3 separate regions of the Homo sapiens genome follow, and regions 1 and 2 are each linked to region 3. The links come from fine-mapping of genetic effects on gene expression. A gene starts in region 3. Each other region holds a variant in brackets. All regions are shown on one strand. Distances are from middle to middle.

Region 1 (10,802 bases), 220 kb after region 3:
GAATCAAAATATGGAATTTATTATTGGGATGTGAATTTCATTAGAGCAAATTCAGTGGCCCACTGGGGATGGATAGCTAATTGTGCCTTATTCCAAAGAGAATGGGGTGCAATAATCAAATGAAGGTATAAGCCTTGGAAAGAAGAGACATGCATCCCTCTGAGAAGAGGAAATGAAGTGAGCATGGATAAAGACAGGTTTACGAGTATGAAATACAAAAATGAGAGAATTCACAGATAGCCTCAATTATTTCAGAGATAGGAGGCAATTCATTGGATGAGACCTGGAGAGTTGGGGGTACTGAGGTGGGGGTTTAGGAGGAATAGTAGATATCTGGAGATAGCTGTTTTGGGAAATGGGAAGTCAATCAAGGACACTTAGGAATATAGATCAATTTAGATAAATTACAAATCTATACATTTGTAAAGAACTGAATACAGAATTTTTTCAACTCTCAGTTATCTTGGTGAAGGAAGGGAGAAGCCATGGCTATATTGATCCAAGATTGCTGCTTTGAAAAGCAGATAGATGGAATGATGATTAACCAATCTAGCAAACCTACTATTCTATATCTAATATGTTGAAAATGAATTTATCATCTTCTGCCAGACACATTTCTTCTAGATCCTGCATGTCCTGTCTCAGTGAATGGTTCTACAGCCTCTCAGAAATAGGGTCATTCTTGATCCCAATCTCTCTCTCTCTCATTCTTTCACATTCAGTCCTATCCATTCCATTTCCTTACTAGTACATCTATACTCTGACTCCTTTGTACCTTTGCACAGGTAGCTCCTTCTACAGTGCACCCTCTTTTTCACACAATTCTCACTCATCTTTTATAACTTAGTTCATATATCACTCCCTCCTGAAAACCTTCACTCAAGATCCCTTTCCCTCTAATCTGGATTAGGGACTCTTCAAAGCAGAGCATTCTGGTCATACCTCTTTCAAAGCACTTAAAACTTTATAGTAATTAACTATTCTCCCCACTATGCCCACAAGACTAAATTCCTTGAAGGCAAGATTATATCTTTTATTTCAAGCAATCAGTACTTAGCACAGAATTGTTTGTTGAATTAATGAATAATTATAAAATATAACACTAGATGGCAAAATAAATGGATAACACTTGAGAATAAGCCCACTATTGTTTAAAATGGCAGGAGGTGATTCACAAAAGTACATCAGTGATGTAAAAGAAATGATATTCAATGATAATTGTCATGGATTAAATCAATGTCTCTACTAGTCATAGGTCCATTATAACATTTGCATGGAAACATAGTCCAAACTGTATTTCAGAATGCTACAAGTACACCTTCAGTCTGGCAGTGGCCACAAGCCACCTAATTAAAAGAACAACATCACCTTTAGCTACCATAGTACCAGCTACCATTCGAGTAAGAAACAGCAATATGAGAAAATGCCCCTCAGTCTTTGGAGCTCTAGGGGAAGCTTTCCCCATACATTTTGTGAGATAAAAGCACATAACACACTTGTTTCACAGTAATAAATTTACCAACTTCTGTAACTTAAAACTAATTTTAGGATATTTGTGTTTAAAGAAAAAAAATTCTGTCTCAGAATCTTACTCCAACAGATGACCCATCATTTTGCTCTGAAGGAAAACATTCAAAAAGAAAATAAATCTAGATACCAGCTAGGAGTGTTCATGTGGTCACAGTATTTGCACTCAAATAAGTAATGAATGCTCTGAGTCCTCCCATGTTTAGCATGTGACTCTGATTCTACAAACCTTCCTCTTAGAATAATGTTTAAGCTGATTTATTCCATGTGAATTTCTATGTAAGTTGTTCCCTAAGTAGTTGATACAAATTCTTCTTCATATTAATACACTGTCTTGTGATATTTTAACAAATCACGGAGTATTCAGACATTCAATACTTCCTTATTAGTAGTAAAAATATTGCCATTGTACGAAAATAATTAACCAAGCAAGTCCCTTGAGCAAAATCCTTAACCTCTCTTAACAGTTGCTGATTTGTAAAATTACAAAAATCATCCCTGTATTACAGGATTGCTGTAAAGATTACAGCTAGTATATATGTATATATAAAGCAACTATCACTCTGCTTAGCACACAGTCTGCTAACCACAGAGGTCTCTGTCAGGCCAGGTGCAGTGGCTCATGCCTGTATTCTCAGCACTTTGGGAGGCTGAGACGGGTGAATCACCCGAGGTCAGGAGTTCGAGACCAGCCTGGCCAAAATGGTGAAACCCCGCCTCTACTAAAAATACAAAAATTAGCCAGGCGTGGTGGCGTGTGCCTATAGTCCCAGCTACTTGGGAGGCTGAGGCAGGAGAATTGCTTGAACCCCGGAGGTGGAGGTTGCAGTAAGCTGAGATCGTGCCAGTGCATTCCAGCCTGGGCAACAGAGTGAGACTCTGTCTCAAAAAAAAAGAAGTCTCTGCCTTTTCTTTTCTATAAGATCTTTATTTCCATTTTAATGTTCTTGGTGAATATATTTGCAATTTAATTTTGTACATTTTCGTGAAAATACACATAATACCCAGAAATATGTATCATCCATATGCATATTCACATACTTTGGAGGGGGGAGTATAGGTGTGTTCCTCAAGTACGTATATATTATTTTGTGCACGTATTAAGGGTTTATCCACTTTGCTTCTCCATGTACAGACTTCTATTGGATTCAGTAAGGAATCAGAATGATTAATTTCACAAATAAAAAAGAAACTATTTTTTATAAGCTAAGATATGCTGTAAAGTTATTCTTACAGAGCTATATTTAGTTGAAATCAGATCTAGCAGAGATGGAGATATTTTGCTACACATATTCTACTTCCAAATACTTTTTAATTACTTTCTCCTATAAACCATTCTTGGGATTTCTCAACTCTCAATGTAGATAAGGTATTTATATCATACTAAGGATCACACAAATTAAAATATGAATATTATTTCAAACCTCTTATTTTCAATAATAAAAATTGGATTGTCTAAGCATTCCAGTTTAATTTACTTTGCTTCAGTTATAATTCACATACATAAGAGGATAACAATAATTTTTTAAATTATAATTTTATTATCAAAATAGATGCAGTGCAGAAAAGAGTTAACACAGTAGGCCTGAGACTGCTATCCTTAGAAAGCCCTGCTTGTAAGGTTGGCCCTTAGCTGGCATCTAGAAATTTAGATTTGGGGAGAATTCCCATCATTCCCTAACTGGTAAGAGTGGCTTATTATGTATAAATTGTTTGTGTAAACAGTATGGTTTATGCTAAACATAAATTCCATTCAAACAGGAATTTGGAATTTTGGTGTGTGCTAGGTAGGATGTGCCTGTGTAACCAGCTCCAGTAGAAACCTTGGGTACTAAGTCTCTAATGAGCCTCCTGGTAGACAACATGGTACATGCATGGTAATAATTCACTGCTGGGGTACTTCACTGGGAGGGGCCCCTTGGAATCTTGTCCCTAGTTTCCTCCAGACTTTGCTCCATCTGCCTTTTCCTTTTGCTGATTCTGCTTTGCATACTTTTGCTATAATAAATCATACCTGTGAGTACAACTATATATTAATTTCTATGAGTCCCTGTAGAAAACCAAGGAACCCTGGTGTAGTCTTGGGACCCCCAACACAGATGCTATAAAATGTCTTTAATCAAAATATCTTCTATTATTTTTCATTTTATATTGTCATTATTTTCATTAGGTGCATCATTTAGGAATAGAGAGAAATAGGCTAAATAATTAAGATAAACAAATAATTATATAAATGCTGCTATCAGTAATAATCTTATTAGGCAGGAGATGAAAAAGGCCAACAATCACCTAATTATGAAGTCCAGAACAATTTGAGTTTTCTCCTAGATTACAGCCCATTTTATAAATGTAAATTTTAGATTATTTGTAACAGATTATAATATCCTAACCAGGTTACTGATAATTTTTAGCAATTTCACTTTCTTATAATAGAAATTGATTTCCCTTTAGATGATGATAATCAAGCCTAATCATTTTAATTTCAAAATGGGATATATTTGTTTTAGGATATCTTTTTAGTCTTAAAAAGCATAAATACATTGGCATGGATTCACTCCACAGCATGTTTTAAAATCAAAATCTACTTAAGTGAAAATTCTGAACTCTTCAAATTTGTCTCAAGTATTTCTCAATAATATTTCCAATGGTAGGGAACTTACATTTTTTTGCAGTGTGGGCATTTTGCCAGAGTGTTGAACCTCAGTTCCATCCACTGTAAAATAAA[C/T]AAAGAGAGGAATTGAAAAGAAAACAACTGAAAACTATCCAATCTGATAAGACATTTCTTTTACTTTAAATGTCATCAGGGATCACAACAGAAGCAATCACCTTCTCACGGTTACATGAGTTTTTCCCTCCAATACTTCTCTCCCTCTCTTAAAATACAATATGAGATCCTCCTCTGAAATAGTTCCCATGACTTTTCCAATGCTCTGACGCAATCTAGGTTTGCTTTACATGAATACTGAATGTAATACCATAATTGGGGTCATCTTGTTCAGTAAGTCTCAGTTCACTTCCAACGAATACAATCATATTTCATATACCATCAAAGTTATTTTTCTTTTAAGTCTTGAGGGCTGGCCTTTTAAATACTTGAATATTTAGATTCATTACTAAAATTAAACTATTTATTCTACTTATGTGAGAAAGTCACCAAGTACATAAACTAAAAAGTCGGGAACTGTTTCCTGTTCTGTCATTGCTTATACAATATAACAAAAACACACTGCTTAGTACAATTTTCTTCCCTGTAAATCTAAGTAATAAATGTGCTACCTTCCTCACATGAATGTTATTCAGATACTTGAAATGACTTACTGGTTGTAGATAGTCTTTGAAGGAATATGCAATATAAATTTAAAGTAAATCTTTATCCCATGAAATATATTTTGTTAAATGACTTTCTAACAATCTTCTTCTATCTTGTTTGCTTTTCTATATACTTCCTTATAAAGGGTATATTTCCTTGATAGTTTTGGGAAAATTTCTTTAAGTACTTTGGCAGTTTATCATCAAAACAACATATTTTTATTAAAATTGTTTCATTTGGAAATCTAGGCCAACAATTTTTCTTTTCAGAAGGCTCAAATTCTAGATACGGGGGTTTCAATAACTTATGGATATTCAAACGTTTTCCACACAATAGAAGATACCTTTTAGAAAATATCTGATGCATACTTTTTTCTTTTATGATTAGAGTTAAGAAAAGAAAATATAAATTTGGGTTTCCTAAACTCCTTTCTCTTCATTTTTATTTCAAATCTCATGAAATTTAGTTAACCTTGTTATGATCTCGCTTAGTCACAACAGGAACATATAGTCCCAAGATAAATAAAAGAGAAATAAAACTTTACATGAATGTTCACTCTCTTTACAAAATGATTATTTTTAAACATCTGCAAATGTCAAACCAAGGGCACTTATTTTTCAAGCTAGAGTGAATATTTCTCTCATTAATTATGAGAGAATTACTTATAATATCAATTTGCAACAAGTTAATTTATTTTAAAACTGCTCTTAAAGTAAAAATTCTTGAGTTAATGTGCTAAACAGATATTAATATAGATTTCTACAGAAATTGGTATAGAACATTAAGCAGTGGAAGAATATAGAACTATTATTAAGTGCTTTTTTATGTTTCTGTTACAGGCTTAGGATAGTTACTGAACTTGTAATGTCATTTCAAATGTTATTTATAAATAAAAAATTTAAGTTTTTCATAGTTAAAAGAAGCAAACTGGTTTGAGAAGGTAATTATGAAACCTTTGAGTCAAGAGTAACTCAAAATCCAAGACTTAAGGCTAACAGACTGACATAGGAATTTCAGTATTTTAGATGATGCCTAAGGAGATTGTTTAGTCCAATGTTATCATTTTATAGTGTTCTTCATTTTAGCACAAATTATGCATGATAAAATCAATGATAACTGACAAACAGTAGGGACTTTATTCTGTAATTAATGTATTACATTGCCAGCAACCTACCACATCTGGTTTTGTTGTTATCTGCAAGTACTCACTTAAACGGAGCAAACTAATAACAAAAAGCATCTATTATTAGAATAATTTTCTTATAATTTATTCAAATGAATCCCAAACCTATGCTTTGGAAAAGAAGTTGACTTAGTACTGTTCTCTCATCTAAAATCTGGCCTCTGGATTCTTAAAATTTTATTGCCAGACCTTGAAGTCTCATTATACCAAAAAGAAAAAAATCTTAATTATATCAGCAAGATTAAAAGCAACTTCTCTAAAACCCAATCATTTTTAGTAGAGATCTTCTAAAATTTGACTTATTTCTAACTATTCTATAACATGTAATGGATAAATTGAGTTTCCCCAAGATATATTTTGCAACTAATCTTAGAAGATTTGTAAAAAAAAAAAAAAAAGCTATATTGCTTAAAACTAATAATTTAATTTTATAGTATCTTACTGAGATAGATAGATAGATAGATAGATAGATAGATAGATAGATAGATAGACAGATAGATACAATAGGCAACTGGTAACACTTTGAAATATGTTCAAGTTAAAACTATTATCCCTCTCTGCTATGGCACCCATTTGTCCCTAGATACAAATGAAAAAAATCTGGCCCTGCCTGAAGGTACTAAATTGGCCCACTTCAGGGCAAAGTTAGAACTAAGTTGTGTTCACTTTTATTAAAGAACAACAACCCTCAGTCAATGTTGATTAACAAAGTATCTGGATATGCCTTTTACCAGCAACAGAGACCATGGGCCCTACAGAAATGTAATAGTAAACTCTGCTGTTCAGTTGTGTTAAGAAACTTCTTTGCATTTATGGAGAACTAGCTAAAGGCTTTATAAGTCAATTCATTCTTCTGGGAAATTATTTTTCAAACAATGCCCTTCAAATCACCACTCAGGCTAGATGATCTCAAAATGGTTTGGAGGGTAAAAAATGTTTGGACATACAACATAAAAACTCCCTCTTAAATATATACAATGGTATATGCTAAAACTGCTAAAGAATATCCTATTTTAAATTCTGTTTAATTTTTTAATCCTAGCAATTCCCAACGAACATGGAACTCTTTACTCACAAACACCTGTTATTAACCTATAAAATAAATGTGCCATTGAATACACTTTGGAAAACGCAAATCTGGCTTTTCTACATTTATCCATGGTCCCAGCTAGGCTGTGGTATGAATAGTGTAAATATTGTGAATTCCTAGAAAATTTAACCTTACCATTATAGCACTGGTATATTAAACAATGTTATTATAAACAGAAGGATGCTGTGAGAATATGGAGAAGCTAGTCTCTAGCTTGCATATTACTTTAGCAATTGTGTTTTTTTCTGGGGGTAAAATATCAAAATTAAATTATTTTTAAGTATAAATTTTTTAAATAATAAAAGCCTTGTCACATATAATAGTTCTTTTATCTTAATCCTTGAGAGAATTCTCTCTCAGGAGAGAGAGCTCATTATTTCAGGAAAAGCATTTCCTATGTGATCTTTCCAATAAAATATCTTGAGTATTTTGTCACAGGTCATATTTTCTTTTCTTTGACTCTAGAAAACTCAGAGCTAAGATTCAGCCTGATTTTATCAACTGTATTAGACTAAATATTAGCATACTCATATTATGCATGACTTCAGGTTGTTTTTTTCTGCCCTAATTATTATTTTTCCTGATTTTTTTTCACATTTGATTTTCAATCATATTGAACTTAGTGTATCTTTGTAACTTATCTCAATTGCTTTTAGCCTTGCAAGCTAAGTCTAAAACAAAGTAGGAAATGAGTAAATGAATTAACCTAATAATTAACAGTGTGAAGGGCAAATAACATATTATGAAGAATATAAGATTAGTCAAGATCAGCATAATAATAAGGATAAGGCTGTAAGAACTTTGTAGTCAGTGTATTCTTCATAATACTGAGCATCTCTCATTAATCCAAAACTCTCAAAAGTAACCAATACCTCTCCTATAGGTGTATACAGTGTTCCCCTAATCAACAAAAACTTCCTATAAAATTTTGAAATCATCTTTAAATACTGTATTTTAATCCAAAACATCTTTTCTTGCTAAAGAATTAAAGTTTTAAATAATAGTTACTCTGCTAATATGATAATATGATTCACTTGCCTGCACTGAATGTTAAGTAAGGAAGAGCCAGCTTTAGAAGTTAGTCTCTGAAAGAGCCAGCTTTAGAAGTAAGTCTCTGGCTTGCACATTACTTTAGTAATTTTCTTCTTGGGGAAAAATATCTAAATGTACAAATTACTTTTTAATATAATAGAAACCATGGCACATACATATCTACCTAAACTCTCAATTTAGATCATTCTCTAGAATTCATTGCCAGATGATTCTAAAAATTAAATATAAACCTTTATAACAACTGTCTTTTTGATTGTTCTTTTCTCCTCATTCCCTTTTCTACCCTATTAGTACAGTCAATTCTCTCTCAAATTCTTTATGCTATTCTTGACTATCATCATCACTTTGCTGAAAAATAAAAGCCAAAATTCTAGCCTTGTGCTTTTTCAGGCTTGTCTCTTTGCTATCCATTCCTCTCCTATTAGGTTAGAAAATTTCATGAAAGCAGAGACTGTGCTTCCTGTTCACCACTGTTTCCCTAGCACCTAGCTCAGTGCCTGGTACACACACTCAATATATATAATTGAAAAAATAAAATCATTCCTTTTGTAATGTGGCTACAAGGATTATCCATGGCAAATATTTGGAAGATAAAACGTAACAAGAAAGAATGCAAGGTAGCTGTAGAAGGGAGATCTCCAGAAGTAGGTTGAAACAAATCTATATTGAAGATTTTAAAATTGTGTTACTGTCAAAAGTTTGTTCACATATGAAAAAGAAAATAACAAATATGCTTTATATATTTAATTTAGTTAATTCATTTAATATCTATTGGTAACTATAGAGTACGTTAGTTTATATTAAATCAGTATATACTGATTTTTATTTATTTTAAAGATAGGGTCTCATTCTATCACCCAGGCTGGAATGCAGTGGTATGAACATAGCTCGCTGCAACCTCCAACTCCTGGGCTCAGGTAATCCTCCCACCTCAATCTCCTGAGTAGCTAGGACTATAGGTGCATGCCACTACCCCTGGCTAATTTTTAAATGTTTTTGTAGAGGTGAGGTCTCTATGTTGCCCAGGCTAGTCTCAAACTCCTGGCCTCAAGTGAGCCTCCCATGTTGGTCTCTCAAAGCACTGGAATATCAGGGCATGAGCCACCATGCCCAGCCTATAGTGACTTTTTAAAAAGAAAGTTGTTACCTATCCCCACCAAGTATATTTTCTAATTTACGTACTTAGTCACTGATTTAATCAATAAAATATAAATGTAACAAAGGAGACATATCCTACTAAATCAGAAAAATCCTAGCAATTCTGGTTAAATACAGTAAATTGAATAAATGCATGCATTTCCATTTTTTTCCAAACCTGACTAAAATAATAGTAATTGAATTTTGAAATGTATAATACCATAAGGATAAAAAAAGAGGGACTATGACTTCAAATTTTTGGACAATGGAAAGCAGATGGACTTTGCAACTCACTTAGCGAAAGGGATGTTGAAACTTAACTACCTACAGAGAGATAAGCCAATAATGGCAGGCTGCTTCACACTGAAAGACCCAGAATAGACCCTATACTTTTAAAGGTGGAGGCTGGGGTAAGGATAAAGCAGGAGTATCACAATCCCAAGCTCATTGCAGCATTATTCATAAAAACCAAGATATGGAAACAACCCAAATCTCCATCGACAGATGAACGGATAAAGAAATTGTGGTATATGCATACAATGAAATATTATTTAGCCTTAAAAAGAAGGGAATTTTGCCATTTGTAACAACATGTATTAACCTGGAAGATATTATGTTAAGTGAAATAAGCCTGACACAGGAAGACAAACACTGCACGATCACGCCTGTATGTGGAATGTAAAATAGTTTAATTCATAGAAGCAGAGAGTAGAATGGTGGTTGCCAGGCATTGAGGTGGGTGAGGAAAGGGGAGATTTTAGTCAAAGAGTACAAAGTCTCAGTTAGGCAGGCTGAATAATTTCTGAAGATCTAATGTACAGTATAGTGACTATAGTTACCAATATTGTATTATATACTTGAAATTTATTAAGAAGGTAGATCTTTAGTATTCTTACCACAAAGACACACACACACACACACACACACACACACACACACACGATAACTATATGAGGTAATCAAAATGTTAATTAACTTGATTGTGGTAATCATTTCACAGTATAGACGTATATCAAAACATTAGGCTGTACACCTCAAATATACAATTTCTGTTGGTCAAATATAACCCAATAAAGCTGGGAAAAAAACAGAAGTATTGATTGCAAATTCTCACAAAACCAGAAAACCACCCTTCCCCAATATATTAAGAGAAGAATGATTTATTCTGTAGAGAAATTGGACTATAGAGCTTGTGGACCAGGAACACCAGGCACAGAAGACGGCACGAATAAAAAGTCACTCTAAAAACAAAGGATTTAAATTAATGTCTATTGTTTGAAAAGCGTGTAAGAGCTTCACCCCTATTACCTCTCTTAGCTCCTAAAAGGCTGTCTCTCGGGCATATCTCCTACAAGAGATTAGAGGATCTTTCCCCAGAGAAATCTGCCCTAAAGAAAAAAAGACCAATTGATACTAATAGCTGACAGCTTTACAAAGAAAGAAGAGGAGGAGGAGCAGGAAGAGGATAAGGAAGAGTGGAAGGAGGGGGAGAAGGAGGGAGA
Region 2 (10,802 bases), 330 kb after region 3:
GGCTGTCTGGTCCAAGTTCTAGGCCTACATATGATATGCACTACATTGAACTGAATATAGGGGCTAGTGAGAATGAGCAGGCTAGAATAAAGAAAGCATGCAGCTCATTAGAAGGAAATAAATAAAGCTGGGCAAATTAGAACAGATTAAGCTCAAAAGATACTTGATTTTGAAAATAAAAACTGATGTGGAGCCATAATGACTATTCCATAGTTTGAGTCTTTACAGAGATGATCTAAGCAGGCATCATTCAACTAATATTTATTGAGCAACTATTATATTCCAGATATTGTTCTTTGAATGCTAGATGATTCACACACAGACCCTGTCATTGGAAAGTTTCCTATTTAATAGTAGAGGTAAAATATACATGTGAATCATAGAATCAACATAAATGCCCATCAGTGATATGCTGGATAAAGAAAATGTGGTACATATATACCATGGAATACTATGCAGTCATAAAAAATGAGATTATGGGCCAGGCACAGTGGCTCATGCCTGTAATCCCAGCACTTTGGGAGTCCAAGGTGGGTGGATCACGAGGTCAGAAGTTCAAGACCAGCCTGGCCAAGATGGTGAAACCCCGTCTCTATTAAAAATACAAAAAATTAGTTGGGCACAGTGGCAGGCGCATGTAATCCCAGCTACTCGGGAGGCTGAGGCGGGAGAATCGCTTGAACTCAGAGGGTGGAGGTTGTAGTGAGCTGAGATCGTGCCACTGCACTCCAGCCTGGGTGACAAAGTGAGACTCCATCTCAAAAAAAATAAATAGAAAAATAAAAATGAGATTATGTCCTTTCCAGGGACATGGATGGAGCTGAAGGCCATTATTCTTAGCAAACTAATGCAGGAATGGAAAACCAAATACCACATGTTGTCACTTATAAGTGGCAGCTAAATGATAAGAACGCATGGACACATAGAGGGGAATAACACACACTGGGGCCTATCAGAGAGTGGAAGCTGGGAGGAGAGAGAGGAGCAGGAAAAATACCTAATGGCTACTAGGTTTGGTACCTGGGTGACGAAATAGTCTGTGCAACAAACCCCCATGACACAAGTTTACCTATGTAACAAACCTGAACATGTATGTACCCCTGAACTTAAAAGTGAAAAAAATAAAAAATATATATACACAAGTCATTATAATATAAATAATAATAATTGATAATAGAAAGTACACCGTGCTATGCAAATGCAAAAGGAGGATGCCTTCATGGGGAAGATGGTAAATCTCAAGGGGAAGCATTAAGCACGAAAATCTGTTATAATTATTGGAGAACCAAGATATTGTTAGTATTTAATGAAAACAGAATCCTGAAACACATCATTACTGCAGAAACAATAAAGAATTTTTATCCAGCAAAATTAACAGTCCTTCTGTGGCCATTTTTCTCATTCCATGAAAATGTCATTCAGAAGTGGCTGTGACCTGGGACCTCAAAGCCGTGATCACTCTGCATGTACCTGTGCTCCAGACCCAGCTCTGCGGCTGCTCTGCATGCACTTGCACTTCTGACAGTGGCATCTCTGTGGCCCAAACATGCCCATGTGCTGGACCTACCACCAAGGGGCATCCCCTTGGCCACAACTACCCCTGATAGAAGGAAAAGAGATCAGCAGCACTGCAGCACCTTTTACTGCCAAGGACCCCAATATATGCAAATCAATCAATGTGATATAACACATTAACAAAACGAAAGAAAAAAACCCAGATCATCACAATAGATGCAGAGAAAGCATTTGACAAAGTTCAGCATCCATTCATGATTAAAGCTCTCAACAAAATAGGTATAGAAGCAATTTACCTTAACACAATATAGGCTATATATGAGACTCCCACAACTAACATCATCATCAGTGGGGAAAAGCTGCAAGCTTTTTCTGTAATATCTGGTACAAGGAAAGAATACTTACTTTCTCTACTTTTCAACATAGTACTGGAAGTCCTAGTCAACAATTAAATAAGGAAAAAGAAAGGCAACCAAATCAGAAAATAAATAATGTTATCTCTGTTTGCAAATGACATGATCATGTACATAGAAAAGTCTAAAGACTCAATAAAAAACCGTTAGAACTAATAAATGAATTCAGTCAAGTTGCAGGTTATAAAATCAACATACTAAAAATCAATCATATTTCTATATACAAGGAATAAAGTATCTGAAAAGGGAATTAAAAAATCAATCCATTTACAATAGCAATAAAAATAATAAAGTACTCACAAACAACCAAACAGGTCAAAGATTTATACATGAAAAATTATAAGACATTAATAAAGGAAGTTGAAAAAGATACATGTAAATGGAAAGACATCCCTTCATAGATAGGAAGAATTAATATTATTAAAATGTCCATATTACTGGAAGTGATCTACATATTCAATGCAATTCCTATCAAAATCCTAATGGTATTCTTCACAAAAATAGAAAAAACAATTTTAAAATGCATATGGAACTACAAAGCAACCTGAATAGCCAAAACAATATTGAGCAAAGACATGAAAGCTAGAGGCATTATACCTCCTGATTTCAAAATATATTACAAAGCCACAGTAATCAAAACAGTGTGTCTTAGGCATAAAAACAGACACATAGACCAATGGGACAGAATAGAGAGCCCAGAAATAAATCCACGTATGTATGATCAACTAATGTTTGAAAGGGTGCGAAGAGCACACATTGGGGAAAGGATAGTGTCTTCAATAAATGTTGGGAAAATTAGATATCCATATGGAAAATAATTAAATTGGACCCTTATCTCATATGGTATACAAAAATCAACTTAAAATGGATTAAAGACTTTAATGTAACACTTGAAACTGTGAAACTACTAAAAGGAAACATAGGGAAAAACTTCTTGACATTGGTCTGGACAATGATTTTTTGGATATGGTGCCAAAAACAAAAGCAACAATAGCAAAAATGGACAAATGGATAATTTAAAACTAAAAACCTGCACAGCAAAGGAAACAATCATCAGAATAAAAAGGCATTCTACAGAATGGGAGAAAATATTTGCAAAGCATATATATGATGTGGTTAAAATACAAAATATATAAGGAACTCGTGCAACTCAATAGCAAGAAACAAACAAACAAATAACCTGATTTAAAAATGGGTAAAGGGGCCAATAGGAGGATCATTTGAGACCAGGAGTTCAAGACCAACCTCCACAACATTGCGAGACTTGTCTCAAAAAAAAAAAAAAAAAAAAAAGGTAAAGGACCTGAATAGCCATTTTTCAAAAGAAGACATGTAAATAGCCAATAGGTATATGAAAAGGTACTCAACTTCACTAATCATCAATGAAACACAAAGCAAAACAAAAGTGAAGTATTATTTTACACATGTTAGAATGGCTGTTATCAGAAAGACAAAAAGTAAGTATTCACAAGGATGTGGAGAAAAGGAAATGTTCGTACATTGTTGGTAGGAATGTAAGTTGGTACAGTCATTATGGAAAGAGTATGAAGATTCCTCAAAAAATTAATAGTAGTATGATCCAGCAATCCTACTCTGGGTATATATCCAAAGCAAATGAAATCAGTATGTTGAAGAGGTATCCGCACTCACATGTTCATTGCAGCGTTATTCACAATAGCCAAGATATGGGAACAACCAAAATGTCCATCAATGGACAAATGAATAAAGAAAATGTTTGTGTATGTGTGTGTGTGTATATATATATGTATGTATGCACATATGTCATGTGATGCCTAACAGCATTTCAGTTAACAGTGAACCACATATATGACAGTGGTCCCATAAGATTATACGGTATTCTTACTGTACCTTTTCTATGTTTAGATACTTTTTGATACACAAATACTTACCATTATGCTACAATTGCCTTTAGTATTCAGTACAGTAACATGCTGTATTGCATAGGTTTTTAGCCTAAGAGCAATAGACTATACCACATAGCATAGTAGGCTTATAGCAGGTGCATAGTAGGCTTATACCATCTAGGTTAGTGTAAGTACTATGATGTTCACACAATGACAAAATTGCCTAACGATGCATTTCTTAGAATGTGTCCCCATAGTAAAGTGACACATGACTGTATATGCATTGGAATATTACTTAGATTTAGAAAAGAAAATTCTATCATTTGCAGCAACATGGATGAGCCTGGCAGACATTATACTAAGTGAAATAAACCAGATGCAGAAAGACAAATACTACATGATTTCATTTATACATGGAATATAAAAATGTCAGACTCAGAATCAGAGAGTAGAATGGTGGCTACAAGGGTCTAGGGAGAGGGAGATAAGGGGAGATGTAGGTCAAAGGGCACAAAGTTTCAGTTATGTAAGATAAATAAGTTTTGGAGAGCTAATGCACAATGATGTGACTATAGTTAATATTGTATAGTATACTTGAAATTTGCTCAAGGGGTAGATCTGAAGTGTTCTGATCATACATACGCACACAGAGAAGAAGTTACAAGAAACAGTTTGAGATAAATGGGTGGAGAAAGCTGTTAAATAATAGGATGAGATTTTCTTTTGCAGGCCATCTATTTTATTCAGAGGTTGAAAACACATGCCTCCAGGCAGGTAACATATGAGAAAAAGGGACTAGGAAGGAACTGTGGCTAACTGGTAGCTCATACATGCATAGTCAGTAGTGACAGTCCAGCCAGTCCCCAGCACTGGTGGATTTTTGTCACAGCAGGATTGTGTATTTAAAGGTTCTGTGGAAAGAAATACTATTTTTTAAAATACTGTGTCTATTAGTCATACCAGTTTCTGAGCTAAGAGTTTAGGCTTAATTCAGCAAATGGGATGCATTGTTCTCTATGTACTAAAGTATGCAGGAATATTTCTTTAAACTTTTCCAGTCTAAATGTTTCTTAAATTTTTGCCCAAACATCTGGGAAGATCTCTTAGTTTCTATCAGAT[A/G]TCTCCCTTTTTGCAATTTGTAAATCAAAGCGATTTTCTAAATTCAGTCAAGTAGGAGAGGAAAATAGAATTGCTGTTGGTGACTGTGGCTCCTAACTATGGTTAGTGAGTTCTGAGGGTGAAACAAAGCTGACCCTGGAGTTGTTCCTTGGCACTTCCAGCAAGGCTGCTTCAGGTTCCTTGCCTGTGGTTGACCCTGCACATGGAGATCCTGCCAATCCCACTCATATTTACAGGTATCACTCCTGCAGGTAAGCCTAACATACATGTCTCTTCACCGTGAGCCAGGTAATGAATATATATGTGTAATTTAATCATGGTTTATAACCTATGCCTAATAAAAGAGTGCTTGTGAATTTAGAAATGTTTGAAAAAATGAGTTAGAAATTAAGAAAATAAGCAGGTTTTAAATTTGAAAACTAGTAAAGTGTCAATATGTATGTATGTGTGTATGTGTGTGTGTATCAGGTGTTTACTGCATTTCTAGCACCAGGTATGGCTAACATTTTACCCCACAGTATTTTCCTGGGCCTAAAAGATTACCATTTAATAATATCTGCTATTTGCCTGGCACTTTATTAAACTGTCTCTAATCCTTAAGACAACCCTAAGAAGTAAATGCTAGTATCCCCATTTTTATAAAGAAATAGAGGCTTAGGAATTTGAGTGACTTGCCCAAGATCACATATTCAGTACATTGCATAGCAAACAGCCTGTGCTTTGCCTACTGCACAATACAGACTCAAGAATGTGCACATGATAGGACAAGGATATTTAAAATGAGAATTTCATGTATTGTATTCCATTTCATTTTGTGAGCATGTGTATGTGTGTGAGCATATGTGTCTGTATACATATATATATATATTTGTATCATGTGCATATGTATGATCATTCTGAGCAATAGTAAATTCCTTTTAAAGATGCGCAGTGTATTACTGAAGACAGTGGAGGGTAGGAGTTAGGAATATAGGCCGTAGAATGAACCTAGGTCATTTCACCATAAATCATAGCCTGGACTTCAGATCCCTTTTCTGTAAGATCAGGGTTATTGCGAGGTCCACATTAGACAAAATTCAGCTTGGCACAGTGTTTCATATATTTGGCACTTAATTTAAATTTAATTTAAGTATTGGTCAGTATTGTCATTAATAATCTGTATGTTTTCTCCTTAAATTTCTTGTCTTCTCTCTTACTTATTAAAAATATCACTATACATTGAACCTAGATTCTATAATCCAAAGGCATCAATGGACATTGAGATGCTTGCCTCATATCCAAGATGTAAGAGAAAGTGCACATGCCTATTTTAAGGCAGGCCACAGATAGGCTATAACTTTCAGGTATGAGTGGGTCAATACAATCAAACAAATCAGATAAAATTTAGTAAGAGCATAGACAGACAGTATTTGGAGCAAGTATACAAAGACATAGAAAAGACTATCTACAGGGAGGTTGGAAACATTTAGGATATACTGGGTAGAGAAATTATAGGTTCATCTTTTGGGCAGCTGTTTAGATACAATCTAGTAGGATTGAATAAAGGGAATTTAAGTCACAATACATCCATTCTTTACATCTTTTGCTATGTAATGCTACAGGCAGGCAGTAATGAGTACTAGGTTCATTGCAATGAGATAGAACTGAAAAAGGTACATCTAAAAGGATTTTTAAGACTAAAACTTGGTGGCAGATTGAATTTAGGTGGAGGGAGAGAAAGATGTTCTAGGTAGCTCCAATGTTTGGCCGCCATAGGTTTATGAGAAGTGGGAGAAGCAGATCTAGTTTGTCCAGGGGGCATTGTCCAGTTTTATACTTTGAATTTAGAGTGATCCACTGGAGTTATCTTAGAAGCCGAAACTAACAAGATCCACTTTTTTTTTTTTTTTTTTTTTTTTACAGGGATAACTGTAAATTCCTACATTTAGGTTAAGAAATGAATTCAATTGCACAAGTCCAGGATGTGGGATATCTGCTTGACAGTTAGCTTAGGGGTTTTTATTGGCCACAGACAAAACTAATTATGCACCAACAATGTGCCTTGTTGCTGAAAGAGTACATGCCATGTTAGGCTGCATAATAGAAGTGTTGTCATCCGCCAGAGGGAGACCCGTGGTCCCACTAACATATGTGCTATGAGAGCTGATTTCCTGTCTCACCATAGGCTCCATCTTTTCAGAGAGGGGTGCTCACAAAAATTAGAGAGTGGTCAGTATGGTCAGGGGTCTGGAAATTATGTCCTGAGGGAAATAGTTAAGGGAAAATGGAAAAAATTTAGAGGGAATATGATAGCAATCTTCAAAAATTTGAAAGATTATGTGAGAGAGAAGGAGTGCAAATATTTATTATGATTGCTGTGAGAAGAATTGGGTAGAAATTTCAGAGAGCCTAAATACTAAAAAATTAAATATAGATAGCTAGATCTTCCTAACAAGATAAAAGTGCTACCCATTACTGGGTGTGCTCATGGGGAAGGTATATAATTGCCCACCTGCATTCTGTATGTTGGTCTAGGTGACTTGTAAAATTTCCTTCTAGGCCGGGTGCGGTGGCTCATGCCTGTAATCCCAGCACTTTGGGAGGCTGAGGCAGGCGGATCACTTGAAACCAGGAGTTCGAGACCAGCCTGGCCAACATGGCAAAAATCCCATCTCTACTAAAAATGCAAAAAAAAAAAAAAAAAAAAAAAAAAAAAAAAAAAAAAAAAAAGCCAGGCGTGGTGGCACATACCTACTACTTGGGAAGCTGAATGAGAATCACTTCAACCCAGGAGGCAGAGGTTGCAGTGAGCCGAGATCATGCCAATGCACGCCAGCCTGGGTGACAGAGTGAGACTGTCTCAAAAGGAAAAAAAAATTCTTCTAATTGTAAGTTGCTATAATTCCGTGGCTCATGGGTCTATGAGTAGCAATGGTGTCTTTCAATCTATAGCAATCAGTAGCAATGGTGTCTTTCCATCTATAACCATATCAATTTCCAAGGGAGAGAGAATACCAATAGAACTTCATTCTACATTTAATTACTGAAGAGATGCAAGCTTTAAAGCTTATCAAATAGTTGTCTGTCATATGACTAAAGCCTTCCTTCAGGAACTACACATAACCGTAGAGAATGTTACTAATGAAACACTGCCTACATTCTTTCTGTATATCTGCTATTTCTGCAGTTCTTTGTTAGTAAAACACCATTTGAAACAATGTTGTCAAAGCATTCCAAATATCTTACATCAAGTGTCATCTTCTCAGAGAGTACTTCTCTAATGACTCAATCTAGTCCTGAGTTACTTTCCATTGCATTATCTTGTTGTCTTTTTTTCATATTTAAGACTAACTACTAACACACTATTCATTTGTTTACTTATTTGTTGTCTGACTCACTTCCCAACATAGAAGCATTGTAGAGAGGGATCTTGTGTGTCTTGTTCACTCTTCCTCTAGCATTCAGAAATAGTACCATCATAGACATATCTTAAACATAATTGAATTAATGAAACATCTAGGTTGGGGCTTGAGGTATTTCTCAAAGGTAACTCTATCCTTGCTACAGTGTTTCTGGACCTTTCTGTATAATTTAAGTAATCTACACTGAAGCTCTGATGTATTTGCCATGGTGACAGAGTATAAATGCTACTACCTAGTCTTTAAGAGACATTTATGAATTTAAAGGCAATCAGTGAATCTTCCTTTGGTTATCCTATGCTATGAAGAATATTCCCAGTCGCACTCACTTCATCTTAGTTTTGACTTTGAAATCCTTTACAAGTTGAGGTTTTTATGTGAACTCTCTTCCTCTTCTCCAAGCTACATTCTTGGTTGCAGAGCTCAGAATTTCACATGGTAGCTTCTTCCAGTCAAAGGACCATGTGGTTATCCAGATAAAATGTCTTTTCCTAGGTCATCTATCCATTTTATAATATCTTGGGAGCTAACTTGGATGAGATAATCAACTGTGGTTGTCGTTCACCCTACTACATTCCCCTAGATTGCCTTTCAAAGTGACTTTTTCCTTTTCCTCAAACCTCCTAATCTCCTCCTCTCAGCAGATGACTTTGTTTCATATTTCCGTGAGAAAACAGACATCATCCTTCAGGAACTCTCTCATCTTTTCATCACGAATTCATCTACTTATCTGATCCTCACTCACCCTTTCCTACCTTCCTTCCTACTACCCTTGATGAAGAGCCCTTTCACTTATCTAAGGCCAGCACCCACTTGTACTTTGTACCTGTCTCATCTTCTAAAGGATTTTGATTCTGTGAGTGTCCCCATATTTAAGGCATGAGTTTCTAATCCCTACAGGGTTATTTCCATCAGCACATAAATAAGCTATACTATCATTTATCTTGGGGGTGGGGGGGAACTCCAGCTTCTTCTTCATTTTCTAGTTTCCCTTCATAGCAAAAGTTCTTACAAGAATTGTCTATTAGTTGTTGTCTTTGCTTTCTCACATTTTCTGCACAGCCCACTTCAATTAGACTTTCTTCCCCAACACTTCACCCCTATTTTCAAGGTCACTAATCACTTTCCAATTGCTAAATCCAGTGGTTATTTTGATGCTTTAATTTTGTTTAGCCTTCCCCTGGGATATGTCCCAAATTTTCCTTTTTAAAATACTTTTTGTTTCTTTTGCTTTTGCCTTGGATTCTGTTACACTATATATCTGGGAAATCCTGAAACATAGATTTTTGTAATATTGAGGCATTTCTCTCAGAAGAAACCTTCCCAGGAGTGAGGGAATCTGGACAGGGCAGGGAAAGAACCTGGATAAAGAGGTGGTTCCAGGAGAAATGTAGTCTCAGCCCAATCCCTTCAGAGCTTTGGGGCATGCCCTGCAGCACAGAGGCAAAGGGGTTGGGCTGTTATGTCCTGGCATCTGCCATGGTGTAGCAGCTGTCTGGAAGGATGGAGCAGAGGCACAACCTTCCAGGTAAAGCCCTTCCTTGCAGTTAAGGGAAATTCTTCCAAGAAGGGCGCAGGAGAAAGTCCTCACGGGATAAATTCATGGTAGCTGCGGATGGAGCACGACTCAGCTGTGGGATGTGGTGTACCAGATGCTTTAAGTGGCCTATCTTTGCCTTCTACTTCAGCCACTCCTCAGTCAGTTCCTCTGCTGGGCTTGCATTCTCATCTCTTAAAATTCCACATGATGCCTTTTACTTACTGAAAGCTCACAAATTTATTCTGTGCTCTTGATTACTCCGGAGAACCCTAGAATTACATTTACAGCTCCTACTTGACATTTTCATTTAAAGATCTAAAAGGCTTCTTAATTTTAACAGGGATAAAACTAAACTCTTGATTCCTTGTCCCTCCTCCAAACCTGCCCTTGTCCCAGTTTCCCCATCTCAGGTGCTCAAGTTCCAAAGTTAGGTGCTACTCATGATTCTTCTATTTATCTTACATCATACAACATTCTGGCTCTTCATCCAAAGCATATCCCAAACCCATCCACGTCTCTCCAGGTCCACCATCCACTACCTAGCTAAAGCCATTGCCTCTTGCCTGCACCACTGCAGTATTGCCTCTGTGTTCTCTTTGTGTTTCACTTCTTGCTACCCCTGCAGATTCTGCTGTACAGATGCCAGGATGATCCTGTTAAAACACATGTCAAATAATGTTACACATATGCTTAAAACCCTACAGTCATTTCTCACTGAACTTAGAGTAAAATCCCAACCCCTTACCCTAGTTTATGAAACCATATGTAATCTGGCCCAAGTATACCTTTCCAACCTCTTTTTCGCTGAGTGTTCCTCTACCTGCAGTGCTCAGCCACATTAGCTGCATCTCCTGGGGCTCCTCAACCACACCAAGAATGTGCCTCCATTGGGGTCTTTATTTTGACAATTTCTTCTTCCTTATTGTCACTCAGATCTCAGTCTATATATCAA
Region 3 (10,802 bases):
TATTTTTGTGCAGGCTTCTATGCTAAGTGTCTTGCATACATTATTTAACTGAATTCTCATCTAAACACTGTGCAGCAGGTACCATTCTTATTTCTATTTGAGAGTTGAGAAAAACAGAGGCTAAATAACATACCTTAGTATTAACCAAAGATAATAAGAAGTTAGGCTGGGCTTCGAGCACCAGTCTTTTGAATATCATAATTTGCCTGCTCAACCACTCCATGCCACTCCAGTAATTCTGTGTGGCTAGAATGTTGAGGCTGGGAAGGAGGCAGGGAGAGAAAGGCAAGAGATGACACAGAAAAGGTGATTTTACTTTAAAGGCTCCAGTGAGCCTCTGAAGGATTTTAAGCAGGTGTGTGCTATGCTTAGATGTGCATTTTAGAAGCCTCACTCTGTGGAAAGGATAAAGTACAGATGAGAAGAGAGCCAGATTGGAGACAGAGAAATCAGACAGGCAGCTGGGCACTGCTCCTGGTGAGAGATGACAGGTTTTTGGTCGCATATAGTGGCGATAGAGATGGAGAGGAGAGGAGTGATTCCAAAGATAACCCTTGCAACTGATTAGAGAGAGGTGAGGATGGGATAGAGGTAGGGTGAACGACAGTGAGGGAAGGAGTCCAAGTTTATTTTGGGGTTTCTCTTTTGGATGAATTGGTGAAGGTTGATGTTATTCAACAAGTGATGGAGCATAAAATAATTAGGAAAAAATGATGAATTCCTTTTTAGACATGCTCAATTCAAAATGCCTAAGAAACATTAATAAGAAGACGTGTACCAGTCAGACTGAAATATGAATCTACATAGTCATCAGCCTACACATGAAAAATCATGGGCTTGGGTAATATCAGTGTATGGAGGAAAGAAAGAGAACAAGAATGGGAAGGGAGCAGATGAAGCAAGGGTACAATTTAGAAAATGTAACATCTAGAAGGCTAGAAGAATTAGGAGACTCCATGAAGACTAAGGAGAGTAGGAGGAACATGATCAGAAAGAAAAAGCAAGAGTTTCAAGAAGGAGGGGAAAATCTGTAGCATCCAGGACAATAGACAGCAATGTCTTGGTCACAGTGACCACCACTGCTCACCAGACCCGCATGTTCCAGACACCATACCCTACCGGGTACTTATGTGAAGTCTCTCTGTTCTTAACAACATGGTTGCAAAGCAGTGGTGCTGGTGGGGAAAACAGTGACTAACTGTTGAATACCTGCTTTGTGCCTACTGTTTACTAAGCTCTTTGCACACAATACCTCATTCTTGCTTTTACAGATGAGAAATTTTGCCCGTGATAAAGATAAAGACAGGGAACACTAATTGTAACAACACATAGGGTTAAGGGAGGATACTAGGCACTGAGGATTTCTTTTCTTTTTTTGCTTCAAAATGGAAGAGCTCCAAGTTGAGTAAGCTAGTAGCACACAGTGGCATAACACAAAAATGTATCCTCAGGGTAAAATAGTTCATAGGAAGATCACCATTATTAGTTAATAATTTTGGCCCATGGCACTTACTACTCCTGAGTCCTAATTTTGCCCTCTTCAGTTAGATAAACGATCACACAGAATAGGCACTTATGGGGAGAAGTCTCTTTCTCTGTCCTGCCTCAGCCTTCACCACAAACATCTGGTGTTACTCTTGTCTCACTGCATTAAAATTATCTATTAAAATAGTGTTTCCTTAAGTTGTGTATGTTCTGCAAAGGCAAGGCCAGTCCTTTTTATCATTTCCCCAGCTTGCCTGTCAGTTGCCTGGATTGAAGCAAGCAATCAATAAATGTCTGAAGATAATTAAATGTTTTAAACAGCTATTTCCAATGACTTAACTATGGCCTTCTTTAACACTAGAAATTTAAATTGAATTTATCTGTCAGAATCCAAACATAAAAAACTAACTTTGACTAAGGTAAAACAGAAAAGAAAGTTTTGGAAGGATACTAGGTCTCTCAGGAAGTCGGCAGAAAGCCTCGAGATCAAGATTGGAGGACAGGGCTGCTGAAATCACAGAGTGCCATTATCCATTTGATTAATTCATCCTCAGGGCTCCCCTGGCACTGTGGCCACACTCAACACTACACTGTGAGTGTCTACTGCCATTAATAAACTTCCCCGCACATCCCTTGATTCAGGTTTAAACACACAAGTGAAGTGTCCTATCAGCTGAGCCTAGCTCTCAGCCTGTGCTCCAGCTACCAGAGAAGAGGGAGAGGATCTCCTTTCTTTCCTTCAGAAGGGGCGAGTTCTGCCCCCAGTCAGGAAACACACCATGGGGATAGGCACTTAAAGCGGAAGGGGATTTGGATCCTAAGCTGCCAAGGCAACAAAAATGTCCACTAACCTGACTGAAAGGATTCTGAGTCATCACTCAAAAGGGAAGGATAACCTTCCCTAGAATTTAAGATATAAATAAGATAGATTCCCAGCTGTCTGAAATGGTTTAGATAATAGTTCTTCTACAAGGCAGAGATGGATTGAAATACAATATATTCCCACACAGCTATCATCTCCTGAAATGCTAGAAATATCTTCACGTCAAAGTCTTATCATAGGAAGCCTGAGAGCTGGAATCTGGAATTACATTTCTATTTTTTTTAGGCCCTTGCTACAAAGAAGTTGCATTTCCTCCCTCAAGTCGGTTGTCTGCTGTTTGTGACTGATACTATGCACAGCAGTGAGGCATGTGTGTTTCACGAAAATGTGTGAAAACTGCTTTCAAAAATGCATGCCATCTAGATAAAAAGAAAACTATAAAAATATGTTTGGTTGCCACTTCGTAGAGCCTATTGAATTTGTCTGTGAATGTGAATCTAATTGCCATTTTTTCTACTACAGCCTCTGTGAACATTACATTTCCATTAAAAAGAGAAGTCAGTTACAGCAGAATGTATTCCTGTGTTCACATAGGAATCATAAAAATAAATAATGATCGGTTGATTGCTTAATAATTTATGTTTCTCCTTGATAGACCATTAGAGGAAATAAGCAAATCCACAGGTACAGAAAATGTCATTCATTGTCAGTAAAGTGTTACAAACAGCTTCCTGTAACTGAAGTGTTTGTAACTAAAGTGTTACAAACAGCTTCCTGGTTTTGAATGATGACTGCTGATTATTCTCCTGTTCTTCATTTATAATCAGAGAAAGTCTCCTTTATTAACTATTCTTGTTACCATGGGATTGGCATAAAAATATTATCACTTGTGTGGTTGAATTTGAGGGCTGAGGGACCCGCACAACTTGGGTTAGAGGGGTCAGACTTAAACTGCACTTGTTGCAGAAAAATCTATTCCATTCTTCATCCAATGGCAGGAATAAACAACATGTTATTTTGATAAATTCAGTAACTTGATGTTAATGGTTGACAGCCCCCCTCCTTCTCGTGGTTTTTCTCCTTCAGTGATTTGAATGACCTGTGTCTATCTGATGGGTTGACCAGTATGTTTTTTTTTTAAATGATTTTGTATCTATTTTGATGAACAGTTGTCAAAGAGAAGGGTCTATTCTCACTGTTCAGGTAAGGAAATTTGCAGTTAATTAGGAAAATGCACATAAAGATGTCAGATGAATATTCCTAAAGCACAGCTCCAATCAATATCTCACCCCTGATTAAGTTTAATGTCTCTAACTCTCTACCTAATTAAGTCCAGAGTTCTATCCCCGGGCTTCACAGATTTTCATCCTATAGCCTCTGCCTATTTTCTGAGATTTTATTCTACTTTTTTCCTGTACTGTATGTACAGCACAGTTAAGTTTGGTGATTCTTAATCCTTGCTGCACATCAGAATCACATGGAAATCTTCAAACAAACAAACATTAATCCACTGGGCCCACCGCATACTAATTGAAAGTGAATTTGAGGATGAAGCACAGGCATCAGTTTGGTTTGTGTGTGTGTGTGTTTGTGCAGGGAGGGTTAGCTCCTTATTTTGGTTATCTATTGTTACAAATCCAACCACCTCAACACTTATTTGTATGAAACGGTATACATTTTATTATGTTCCCAATTCTGTGGTCCAACTGTTCTGACACAGCACAGCACTGGTAGTGTGCCTTTACTCCATGATGCCTGGGGTTTTGGCTGGGACAACTCACATGGCTAGGGATGTCTGCAAGAGCTGGGAGCTGGAGTCATTTGCAGGCTTCCTCATTGACATTTCTGCTGCTGAGGCTGGGATAATGCAAAGGCTCTGCTTAGCTATACCTGTAAGCCAGGTGTCTACACTTGCCTTTCCATATACCTTGGGCTTCCTCAAAGCATGGTGGCTTAAGGTAGAAAAACTTCCTATACGGAAGTTCAAGAATCCAGGAGCAAATCCACTGTAAAAAGTGGAATTGCAAAGGCTTTTATGCCCCTACCCTCGGAAAGCACATAGCAACACTTCTGTTCCATTTCATTCATTGTAGCAGTCACAATCTTTCAGATTTAAGGGGAGGGGACCCACTTCTCTATAGGAAGAATGTCAATGAATTTGTGGGCACATTTTAAAGTTACCACACACCCCAGGTGATTCCAATGTACAGGCAGCGTTGAGAACAACTGGATTCATTTTTTTTTTTTGTAAGCACCCATCTACAAAGGAGCAGTGGGACTTGGGTGAAGTGAACAAGACACCTAGGGTGCAAAATTTAAGAAAATCATTCTCAGGATCATGCAAGCACAGGATAGAGATTGAGAGCAAGTGCCTCCTTACATTCTGTGCTCAAGTGGCCCCACTTGCCACACCCTAGTCCTGAGCCTACTACATAGCAACTGTGTATGAATCATTAGGGTGAGGGGGACTTGGATTTCTGGACTAGACAGTACTTTAGTATTGGGATTTGGAAAGCCCAGGTAGGATCTGGGATTCTGTATGTTTATAGGAATCCCCAGTGGACTACTTCCAGCTTCCACGTGCTTTCCTGGTGCCATGCTTTGCTTACGCTGTTCCTTCTGCCTGGAAGTGTTTTCCTTCTATTTCTATCAAGCATGGAGTATCCACTGATTTTTAAGGTCCATTTCATATACCGCTTCTTTCATCAAGCTTTTATTGGTCCCCCCAGCCAGAGTGTAACCTGTCTCTCCTGAGAAACCCCTAGCATGTTTTACATGCCTTTAAGACACTCACATGTTGATCAGCATTTTGGTTGTGTGTGGGCCTGTCTTATAGGAAGAATATGTTTACTTTTCTCCAAAGGCCACAAAATGGAGATCTGGATCCTCCTCACCCGTTCTCACTGGTAGAGGCAGAGTCTTGTTTAGACAAGGTTCCCTCTTTTTTGCCTTATCTCGCTCCCAGATAGCTCAAGTTTGTAACCAACACATACACATTTTAGATGCCCAATAAACTGGATCTCTCTCCTGATGAAAGGTGTGGTCAGTTTCCTATTTTTACAGCCTTCGCAGAAGCCGTCAAATATTGAATAATTACCCTGGTTTAAATGCTTAAACACAGATAAGGACTTCGTCTTGTGACTTTGGGAAACTTCATATTTGAACATTACCTAACAATCCTTGCCCCATAGCAAACGTTTCGAAGCCTACTCTAGGCAGAGTTCATAGCACCGCCTTTGTCAGCAGCACTGCCATAGGTAAGCCTCAGAACCCTCTGGGGTGAGACCGGTGTAACCATTTTACTGATGAGGAAAAGTGAGGCTTACAGGTTAAGTCCTTCGAGCGCAAGATAACACCGAATGGCTTAATCCCTACACCAAACCAGCTGCTCCTCGATTGCTGGTATTCGTGAACCCTGCCCCCGCCTTTGGGGAAGGTCGGGCAGACAGGCCACTGGGACCAAAAGCAGAGTAGGTAGAACCTCTCTGAGTTCCTCCCTATTTATGGCATCCACTCAGGTGAGGCTGGGGGCGTCCTTACCTTGCGCTTTGGCTGCTCAGGACAAACGCCCTGCCATTCGTCCCTTCTCTCTGTCCGGACGCCCTCCTCCATCCCTGCACTTGGGGCCGTCGTGGGGCTGGTAGGGGTCCCCAGGCTATCTCCAGCCGTGGCCGATGGCCGTGCCGGGGGCAGAGCCCGCTCCCCTCCGCGCGTTGCTACGTGCGGGGATGACATGGATCCAGACGCCGTCAACTACGGGAAGGAGGAGGCGAGAGTTGGAGCGCGTGGGAGCGCAGAGGCCGGAGGAGGGAGGGGGGGACACCGAGCGCGGAGAGCGCGGAGAGCGCGGAGGGAGGCGCGCGCGGGAGCGAACACCCTCCCGGATCCAGAGCCCGGCGGCGGCGAAGCAGCAGCTGCGGCCGCGCCCTTGCCAGAGCCGGTGCGTCCGCCTAGCCCCGCTCCGCCTGAGGCCGTCAGGGCTCCCGAGGATGGAAGATTCCCAGGAGACATCGCCGTCCTCCAACAACTCCTCGGAGGAGCTCAGCTCTGCTCTGCACCTGTCCAAGGGCATGTCGATCTTCCTCGACGTAAGTACAGATGGTGGGAGCTGGGCGGTTGCTTCCCAGCACCTTTCTTTTCCCCGAAAGGAAGGGGTTCGGCTCAGGTGCTGACCAGCCAATGCTTTGTCCCCAGAACACAGGCGAGAACTACCGATGCAAATGCAGGAGGAACGACTGTCCCTTAACTTGCAGCTAGGGCTGTCCCAGACCTGCAGCTTGTGGCTTAACACCCTTAAGAAAACTGCAAAAGTTAGATTTTCCAACAGGCTGGGTTTCGTAGAGACACTATTGCAAATACAACAGACAACATTTGAGTGCATAGGACATTTTAAAGAGGCACAAGGTGTGGGGGGTGAGGTGGGGACAGTGTCCCAACTCATCTCTCTAACGCGCCCTATTCGCAGCCTTCACACTCGTGGATGCTCTCAAGCAACCCAGCCAGGGAAGCAGCAGCGATTGAGATGCCCTCGTTATCCTCCCCCAGACCCCCTCGGAAAACAATTACTTTGAGCATATTTGTTTTTCTTTTTACAGCGGTGGGAAATATCATTTTCATAATGATTCTTTTTGTCACTGCCACCTCTTCTATTTTCCCTTTTTCTTCCCTGATATTCTCCTTCTCTCCAAGTTCTAATTACTACTGTCACCTCCATGAATTCTAGCTTTTGACTATTTTCCCTTTGGTCCAATTTCTCACTTCGGTATCGACTGCCTGCCTTCATTACTCTGATCTGATTACATCCTTTCTTTTCCTTCTGTGCTGTTTCTTTTTCCCGTATGGTGTGGTTTCTATCTTTACAGCACTTTTATTTCTTATTTATTTCTCAATTTTGTTTTCCTCTCCTGCCTGCTGTTTCTGTTTTCTCTATTTTTCCGTCTGTTGCCTATCTCTTCTCTCTGCTTTGGGGTTTCTCTCAGCTGCTTGCCGGGCTCCAGGCTCTCCCAGCCCCTCAGTTGTCACATTCATGCTGTTGCCGGAGGTCGTGTCTATCTCAGTGGGGACAATTCTGTCTGCTTCTTGTTTAGGCATGATAGAAAATGTCAAAGGACATGGAGGAGTGCTACGTGCTCTGTCCTTTACCCTTCTCTGAGTTATCTTTTCTTATTAAAGTCAAAATGAGTGGGAGATGGGCCAGAAGCCAGATACATTTGTTTGTGGAGAGATGAAAATATGAGGAAATCAATTAGTATCATAATGGTGAGGCAGAGATAAAGAGGATAGGAGGATGTGAGGCGCTCTCCCAAGTTTATTTTGAATGGATTGGCTAGAATTCTTTTTAATTCTAGGGAAAGAAACTCCTATCAATAATTCAAACTGTTGTAAGGCAAATGATAGAAGTGAGGTTCAACTGTGTGTACTGGCAGCCTTCACCCTTTATCACCTGGTGGCTCCAATTGGTGATCCAGGCATTCTGGGCTGGTCATCTCCTTCCCACCAAATCTCAGGTGTGGTCATTCCTATTCAGCCACCCAATCAGGTGGTTAAGTACCTTATCCTTCATGAGCATTTATCTCTGCCTGGCTTGGGTCAGTCAGATGGTATTATTGGTGCTCATGGCTTAACGGGCTGATCTTATTCAAGTTTTGCTGTTCAGGGCCATAAAGCACTTGAGGAGGTAAGCTGAGAAAAGAGAAGGGCACCACAACATGCCTGAAAAGTCAGGGCCCCTGGAAATCATGTCAGTTATGAGGCTGACAATTAAGGGGCCATGGAGTTGATTCAAAGGGGACAAGTGGGGCCTCCATTCATTCTGACCTGATCTTCACTCTGTCCCCCATTGAGATCAAGTGCTTCCCTGTGCTTTTTAAAAAGCACTTAACAAACCCCGGTGATAGTGTGGAGATGAATGGATTAAAACTACACAAATGGAAAGTCATCCTCCTGACTCATACACCAGCCATTGCTTAAGTGTTCAACTGCAATGTTTTCGAAGAGAAAATTAAAATTTCATTTTTTATTATGTATGCATGATTGTTTCCAAGTCTGTAAACAAATAGCATCAGGTCCCTGTACTAAAGGAACTTGTAGTCTGTGAATAGGGTGGTCTTGCCTTTTATATTTCAGAGATTTAAAAATAAAAATAGGAAACTGATTCCCTATGAGAGGTGTTGACATGCTTGTTTGTCGGTAAAATGCTAGAGTCTACAAAAAAAACCTGCCATTGGATTTTGTGTCAAATGGAAAAGATTTTGTTTACACTTTTCTTTGAGTTATTTTGTGAAAAATCTAACACTGGTGAAATATGTGATATGAAAAATGATTTGTTACTTAGGGATTTGTGAATTATTCATTTCTGGATCATACCACTTTTAGCAAAATAAAATATAAAATATACATGCATCACTTTATTTATTTGATTTAATATATTCTATGGCACTAGCAAGAAAGATTACTTTTAAAATTATCTTCATATTATAATACATAGGTGATAGATATTACCTGTTCCAAACTGGAACAGGTAATTTTCTGTGTGTCTTCTGTATCAAACAGACAATTTCCAAATTTGAGGAAAACTTTGATTTGCAGTGCTTTTTATTGCAATGTCACTGGAATAATCAATCATTTAAGAAATGATGTAAACTGCTACTGAGAACACTATTAATGACATGATACATGACCAGCTGGTTGGAAACTAGAGACAGATTTTAACAAGAAAATCAGAGATAGATTTGCCACAACTGTTGGCTTTTCCTTCAGTATCCTCTCCAAATCAGCAATAGTAATCACTATGATACTTCCTTAGGCTGTTGTGAGTATGAAATAAGGGAAAATGGAAACAAAGCAAAAAGTATTGCATAAATTTGAAGTATTATGGTTATTTCAGTGCTGCACACTGAGTGTATTAAATAACAGTAACAGTAGCTAAATCCACAAACTGATGCAGGGACTATTTCTTCATGAATCTAATTTATAGAATTGTCTTGCTAGAATATGACAGAATTAAGTATCGGTTCATCATAAATACTCTTGAATACTGATGGGAGGCTTAGAAAACCTAGCACTGGTGCCAAGGTATGCCAGTGCATTGAGGCTGGAGCAAGCATTTGCATATGGCATGCCTGCCAGCCACAGGAGAGGGACTCAACTGGGTCCTGGCAACACATAGGACCACAGGGATTACTATTGCTTTTCCTTTTACACCAATGGACTATCATTTCCCCAGTTGCTGCAATCCAGTTAACAGAAGAGGAACTCTAGTTTGGAATACTAGTCTATGTAGCATGTGTCTCCTCTTTTGAGTCATTACATTAATCAACTCCGCTACTGTGAAAAGGGAGAAAAACAAACCTTCAACTCATCCCCAAAAGCAAGAGAAATTCCCAAACGAAATTAGTAGCAACTTCATCCACCCAATGCCACTTTCCTTTCCCATCAGTTTTCCTTTGATTTTTAACTGGAAGGGAAGTGACTGTTCCCCACTTCACTGCTAAAGAGGGAAAGAGGCTGGAAAGTTGTGAGGGGGATGAATGACTTTACTGCTTGTCTTCCCTTCCTTCCTTCGTCTAAGCATGCACACTCATGTACACTCTGAATGCAAGATACAGAGCATAGATGGTCAGGAACTTGGTGAAAACAAGAAATAGTTTCTTTTCACAAGGACACTTAATTCTGAAGCCCCATATATGCTCATTTGTATGATGTGTGAGATGCACAGAGGAATGTCGAAGCCGAATGAGTCTTCCAGATGCAATGGTTCTGTGACTGAACTCTGTTATAGCCACACACCTCCCATCTCACCTCATCTCTCTCACACACACACACACACACACACACACACACACTTGCTCATTTGAGTGAGATTGTCCAGTTCAGAGGATGGCAGTTAACCCCATCATTGTCTACCCTCATTGGCAAGGCAAATGTCACTCTTGTAGTTATAGGAAACAGCAGAAATTAGGAAAAAAAAATTTAATGCATGCTGGGCTTAATACCTAGGTGATGGATTGATAGGTGCAGCAAACCACCATAGCACACGTTTACCTATGTAACAACCCTGCACATCCTGTACATGTACCCCGGAACTTAAAAAATTTTTAAAAAAGTATTTAAAAATACACTTAGTCTTACTGTTATCATACATTAAAAATTGTTTTCCCACACTGGGCCTACCCTAGGCAAAATTGAGAAGATGAAAATATGTGCACTGATTCCTTCTCTCCATCCATCTTTCAGTGCCTGCTTCCCCTTATCCAGTTTCAGGGCAACCAGTGGCCTGGTAGTAAAACTACCTGCTGGAAGTCTGGGCCCACCCACCCTGGTAATGGGAGAGACTCCCATCTGACCCCAGGCAGTCTAATGATTGCGACACCTGGGCAACACCAGGCATTCTAATGGGAGAGACTCCTGCCGACCCTGTGTGGTGGGACTCCATGTTCTGGATTAGTCCTGAGTCCCTGTCTTATATTCTAGTTTCTCAGGAATCTACCAAGGG

Which allele goes with the higher level. Alleles are on the strand shown, and positions count from the first base shown. SD is a standard deviation of normalised expression in the study named. Not every link is listed here.
As copies of C replace T in region 1, the expression in thyroid of the gene that starts at base 6,186 in region 3 goes up (small effect, 0.17 SD a copy in GTEx).

The links. PIP is the estimated chance that this variant, and not a neighbour inherited with it, causes the effect.
Region 1: its variant is the best candidate, but not a certain one, in a credible set for the expression of NECAB1 in thyroid (GTEx, PIP 0.53).
Region 2: its variant is the best candidate, but not a certain one, in a credible set for the expression of NECAB1 in unexposed skin (GTEx, PIP 0.84).

What each region holds. Positions count from the first base shown.
Region 1 is chr8:91,004,556-91,015,357 of GRCh38, forward strand. PIP4P2 (phosphatidylinositol-4,5-bisphosphate 4-phosphatase 2) reads right to left here. Exons shown (of 7, transcript NM_018710.3): 5 at 4,188-4,240. Among named protein-coding and RNA genes, the nearest start is that of C8orf88, 25 kb to the left of the region's middle. The variant C/T (reference allele first, on the strand shown) is at 4,253.
Region 2 is chr8:91,110,774-91,121,575 of GRCh38, forward strand. The region is part of intron 1 of LRRC69 (leucine rich repeat containing 69); the gene reads left to right. Among named protein-coding and RNA genes, the nearest start is that of LRRC69, 14 kb to the left of the region's middle. RefSeq lists a silencer at 8,795-8,995. The variant A/G (reference allele first, on the strand shown) is at 4,913.
Region 3 is chr8:90,785,590-90,796,391 of GRCh38, forward strand. It overlaps NECAB1 (N-terminal EF-hand calcium binding protein 1), which reads left to right and starts at 6,186. Exons shown (of 13, transcript NM_022351.5): 1 at 6,186-6,396. The coding sequence starts at 6,298. LOC105375633 (a long non-coding RNA gene) reads right to left here and starts at 6,579. Exons shown (of 4, transcript XR_928389.4): 1 at 5,849-6,579.